Linked DNA regions of Homo sapiens: region 1 is linked to region 2. The links come from fine-mapping of genetic effects on gene expression. Tissue or cell type: thyroid. Region 2 holds a variant in brackets; the other region holds the start of a gene. All regions are shown on one strand. Distances are between the middles of the regions. Region 1 holds the start of LINC01250 (long intergenic non-protein coding RNA 1250). Region 2 overlaps LINC01250 (long intergenic non-protein coding RNA 1250).

The links.
Region 1: it holds the start of LINC01250, and the variant in region 2 is fine-mapped to the expression of LINC01250 in thyroid (GTEx, PIP 0.93).

Annotation. Positions count from the first base shown.
Region 1 is chr2:3,124,941-3,127,743 of GRCh38, forward strand. LINC01250 (long intergenic non-protein coding RNA 1250) reads right to left here and starts at 1,086. Exons shown (of 7, transcript NR_110228.1): 1 at 887-1,086; 2 at 622-715; 3 at 355-498. RefSeq lists a silencer at 2,467-2,631.
Region 2 is chr2:3,101,828-3,104,630 of GRCh38, forward strand. The region is part of intron 3 of LINC01250 (long intergenic non-protein coding RNA 1250); the gene reads right to left. Among named protein-coding and RNA genes, the nearest start is that of LINC01250, 23 kb to the right of the region's middle. RefSeq lists enhancers at 131-915, 2,693-2,803. The variant C/A (reference allele first, on the strand shown) is at 1,090.

The DNA of each region.
Region 1 (2,803 bases), 23 kb after region 2:
AATGTATGTTTTCTCCAAAAAGAGTGTGTGCCTGAACATAAGATTACCACGCACGCTGCGATGAGCTGGGAACACCATCTCATCTCTGCACAGAGCCGCCGTTTCAAAGACGCAAGAGCTGGGAATCTCAGCAAATCAAATTGCACAACATGAAGCGCTGTCTCTATCGCGCGGTTAGCTTACTGCTATCATTTGTGGGAAATACGAGGCGCTAAAATTCTGACACCACATTCCTTGCAGAGCCTTGCAACGGGAAGAAGAAATGGCACGGCGTGAACCCAGTCTCTCAAATGAGTCGGCCAAACCTTGACAATTGATCTAGCGCCACTGCAGTTTATCCCACAAAAGCCTTACCCTAAGTCCAGCGGATCCCCACGCAATCTGAGAGTGCCAGGCAGGCCCCATTATTCCAGGACCACAAAGGGAGCCCGTGCCCTTGGCGAGGACTCCAGGGCTCTAAAGATGACTGGATAGCAGCAGCTGTCACAAAGCCTGTTCCTAGGCATAACAGAAATTGGAAAAGTTTGTTTCCAGTGCCTCTGCACACTCCCCACCCCACCCTTCAACACCGCCTTCCATCGTTCCCCTCCACCCCCTTGCGTGCAGCAGTTTTTGCTGTACCTAAAAGGACTTGTTTTGCAAGTGAAGACTTGCCGCCAGGAGAAGGACGCTGCCATGACAGGCGCTTTACACACGTGTTCTAATCACAGCTATCCTGAAAGACAAACTATGTTCGCATCCTCATTTTACAGAGAAAGACATGAAACCTCTATGAGTGAAGAATTTGCCAAAAGGGGCCCTGCCTCAGCCCCCTGGGCCCTGCCATACTCCAGGAGAGACGGTCAGCACCCTGGGTCCTGGGCAGCCATGGAGGGAGGCCACACACCTTCCGAGGCATCCAGTGCCACCACAGACACAGCGCCTTCTCCTCTGCCCAGACCTGCCCCCTGCTTGGGGCTTTTGGACCCTCTCCCCACATCCAGTGTGCCTACTGTGTTCTCTCCTCGGGAGGACCCTGTTGTCTGCTAAGGTCACAATGACACCCAGTGTGGAGGCAACGTGGGTGGCTGGTGACTCTTTCCTCATGCCACACGCTCAGCACGCTTCCAGGGAGCCCTTGATGGGTGGGCCCAGCGCTGTTCCCACGGCACCAAGAGAGACAAGGTCTCCACCAATACAGCGTGAGCAGGGAGGGGGCAGACGAGGAAGGACAGTTCTGTGTCCCAGCATCAGTGACTGGGTTTTAGATAAGTAGGTCTAGGTCTCCTCTGGCCTCTTCCACCCTCTTATGTATAGATCCATACCAAATTGTTTAAATGCCCTGACTCTTCATCTGTAAAATAGGGCAATGACCGCCCACACTGCTCCTGCTGCCTCTTCTCAACAAGGGGGTTGTGCAGATCCGAGAGGGAAGCCGCACACAGGAAGGTTGTTGAGATGGGAGAGGGAGACCGCGCAGCTTACAGGTAGATGCTGCTTCTGAAGCTGCTGGCGGATTGGGGTGCGCGTCACAAGGTGGAGTTTGCTTTTAGAACCCAAATGACAAAGATCTCTGAGTTATAAGCACCTCTCACCTCAACCAGCAGCAGCAGAGGGGGCTGAGTGGTCATCACAGGGTCTCCTAGGAACACAGAGACGACCTGGCCTGGCCCTGTCCACTTACTGCCGGTGAGACCCTGGCCATGTCACTTAATGTCTGGCAAACTCACTTTTCTCACCTGTAAAATGGGTTCCTAGCCCTGCCTCGCCTGCTTGCTGGGTGGTGAGGATCACAGCCTGGACTGGGAGATGGGTGGGGCGTGCATGAATAGGCAGAGAGGAAATGAAAGGCTGCTCCAGCTTGCCCAAGGGCCAGAGACGGTCCATGCTTGGTGTGCTGGAGTTGGGGCTGAGAGAGAGACAGTGTTATTTTCCTGGAGATAGGACTTCTTATTTCGCTGGAGTACCCAGCTTTGGACAGGAAATCACTTGTTCATTGTTATCAGCCTGGGAGAGGAAATAAGGGCCCACATCTCTGCACTGCTTGCCCTGGAATGTGATTTATTGGAAACACTGGATAACTCATAGATGATAAAAACAACTGAAATGAGGCCCTGGAAGCTGCTCTGGCCTGAGCTCAGCGCAGCCCTGAGGCAGCAGCCGGGCAGGGAAGCCTGAGAGCTGCTGGGGCCGCAGGGACTCGGCCACGTCCAGCCACACAAAACAAACCAAACGTTTCGGGCGATCCTGGGGCAGCATCCTTTCCTCATCCTGCCTGGGCCAGGAGCCTGGGGCTACGAAGTCGTAAAGACTTACCCAGTGCATTCTGTCCAGAATCAGGGGCCCCTCTCAAGAGAAAATACAGCATCACAAAAGTCCACACGGAGGCACATTGGCGGCTGTCATGCTTTGTTGATCCCCGTGACAGATGCTGAAACACCAGCTAGTAAAATGGACACTTTGGGGCTGACATCTGCTGCTGTGCCTGTAATGAGCACTTCCTGTATGCAGGCAGCTGGGTGCCAGGCACAGGAAATCTACACAGGCCACAGAATAATTTGATTTGGGCTTTCTACGGAGTGCGCGCCGTCTCTGAGCTTTCGTGATTTCATCTTCCGGAAGGCGAAAATCATCCCTCTGCTGAATTGGGTTTTGATTTGCTGGTGTTCACCTGACAGGACGCATCTCCCGCGAAGAAGCAGTGTTTGACTCCGTGCTGCAGGGTTGTTTTGTCTCCGAAATGCAAACCAGCTACTTTTTTAATCCCATGGAGACCGTCCAGACACCAGACATTACTATATCCCTGGAATTATTCCCTGGGCAG
Region 2 (2,803 bases):
CCCATGAAGATGAGGACGGCCACCTGCCCACCAGGAGAGGAGCAGCAGCAGACCCCGCCCTCACAGCCTCCGAGGAGCCAGCACGATGTCATGTTCCCTGAAACTCATCTGGCGAAGCCCTCACGCCCAGCACCTCAGGAAGGGATTGTATTTGGAGAAGGATCTTTAAAGAAGTAACTAAGATAAATGAGGCCATCAGGGTAGGCCCTGATCCAATAGGACTGGTATCCTCACACAAAGAGGAGACGAGGACACAGACACACAAGCAAAGAGATAGGGGGCCAAGGGGTCGGCACAAGCACCAGGGTGCCCGCCCAGACCACTGGAGGGGACATCTGGGCACATGACCTCACACCCCCTTTAACCCTCCCTAGCCCCCATGTTGGGGAGAGCAGCGCCAGGAGTAGAGACAAGTGCCCCTCTCACCCCACACTGACCTGGGGTCCGGAGCGCCCTGGGGTCCTGAGACAGGCAGGTGGGAGGCCGAGCCCCTGGGACCATTCTCCCCGCACGCTGCTCACAGCTGCCTTTTTCTGGTCTACAGAGAACAAGCTGAAGCTGGAATCAGCCGCAGGTCACTGTGTGCTGCACCACGACAAGCATGTTCACCTTTGCTCCTCACCGGGGTCCACACAAGCGTCCCGCGAGGACCAACGCTGGGGCCGGCCTTCTGGGTCACAGTGCTGGGCGCACAGCGGAAGTCAGGGCTCGCCTCTCTGTGTGGGCCTTCTTGCCAGCGGAAGCACTCCCCTGGGTTTGACCCTGATGGGTTAGGCACTTAAACTTGCAGCTGTGGCAGAGGAGGTGAGGCCAAGACCAGAACAGCCCCCTCCACCCTGCACAGGCAGCTCCAGGCCTGCTGATGACCACAGACCGTTGGTTGGCCCTGGGAGCGCCGTTCACGCTCCTGCCTCCTCCGAGCAGGACCCAAAGACTCTCACCAAGCACACACCAAACGCACCAGTGCGGCACAGCCTGAAGGAGGGCAGACGGGCCACACGAGGCCCCACCCTTCAGGCTCCACTAAACAGCCATGAAGGAATTAGAAAGCTGTAAACATACAAGAGCAGAGAGAACAAGAGAACGGGG[C/A]TGTAGGCGGTAGGTGACGCAAGACTGCCTGAATAGGAGGTGGGACGGAGCGAGCCAAGGCCACCACCCAGCTGTGCTACGAGGGGACCGAGGAGGGACCACTTGGCTCCCCCCAGGGAGGAGAGTCAGACCTGGAGGGCACCAGTGCACAGAAAGGAGCTGGGGTTGGGGCGGGCATGGATGAGGAGCGACATCGGGAATGGGGGATTGGGTGAGAATTCACAGAGAGGGTGGATAACCCAGGGGTCCTCCAAATGCACACAACAGATCATTCTCTACCCCTCCCCAGACCACACACACCAAGAGCAGAAAACAAAAGACACTTCCTAGAGAAAATCTAACAACAGGGGCCTGTGCCTGGGGCACCAGGTGAAGGTGAAGGTGGACTCCATGGGGTTAATTAAACTCCACACACTGGGAACCTGTCCCCTCAGCTTGCTTCCCAAATCCATCACCACCCCTCCACCCTCTGCCACACTCCTGCTAGTAGGCTGCTAACACCAGGCTTAAATCCCAAGCAATAGATCAGAGAGTTTTGCTAGGAATCACTGAACAGCTTCGGAAAAAGCACCTCTAGATACTAAGACTCACCTGTCACACTACCCCATAACCCGACTCTGAGGTCAACCAGTTGGCAAACTCTGCCATGCACAGGGAGCTTCCAATAAATGTTTAGTTCCTCGCTGTTAAATATGAGCAGACAGCCAAGCATGAAATAGAGAACAAAAGGGGAAACAGAATCAGGAGGAAACACATGATAAAACAAACACAGAAAAATTGAAGAAAGATTTATATACAAGAAATGCTCTCAGACTAGGGAACTATTGAATTTGCTTTTTTTTTTTTAAGGAATACAAGAGAATAAGAAAAAGAAAGTTCTTTAAAAATTAAAATGATGATAGATGAAATTCAAAGGACAAATTGGAAAATAAAGTAAAAGAAATCTGCTAGAGATGAAGAATAACAGAGAAAATGTTAAAGATGTAGAGGATTAGCACAGGCTGTCCAACATCTAACTAATAGAAACATCAAAAAAGAGGATGGATGGAAGGAGATGATCAAAGAAACAATACAAGACATTTTTTCTCACCTGAAAAGCCCCACTGAGTACCCATCGGAGTAAATGAGGGAGGATGCACGCCACTGTGTATAAAATTTTAAACAACCAAAATAAATAAATAAAAGATCTTAAAGACTTCCAGAAAGGAAAAGCAGGTCACATGCAAAGAAAAGAAAGAGAGTGGCGTGTGGATTTCAGCAGCACCAGCTTCTCGAAAACCATGGAGCCTCGCTTCAGCTTTTGATTTCTTCAGCCAGCAAAATGATCACGTTGCGTAGAATAAAGCCATTTCCAGGTGTGCAAGGACTAAAAACACAGTGTTTTAGACTGGACTCAAAAAAGAGCATAAACAAAAAACAAATGAATGAACAAAAGACAGAGAGTACAGGACGCAGAAAACCCAGGGTCCCAGAGCAGGGAGAGGATTCCCGGGACCGTGGCAGACTCATTCCCAGGGTGACAGCCACGGAGCGGGCTGAGAGACAGCAGTCCAGGGTAGGCAGAAGGGGTGGGTTGCCCCTCCACACCTGTGGGTGTTTCTCGTTAGGTGGAACGAGAGACTTGGAAAAGAAAGAGACACAGAGACAAAGTACAGAGAAAGAAAAAGGGGACCCAGGGGACCGGTGTTCAGCATACGGAGGATCCACGATCCAC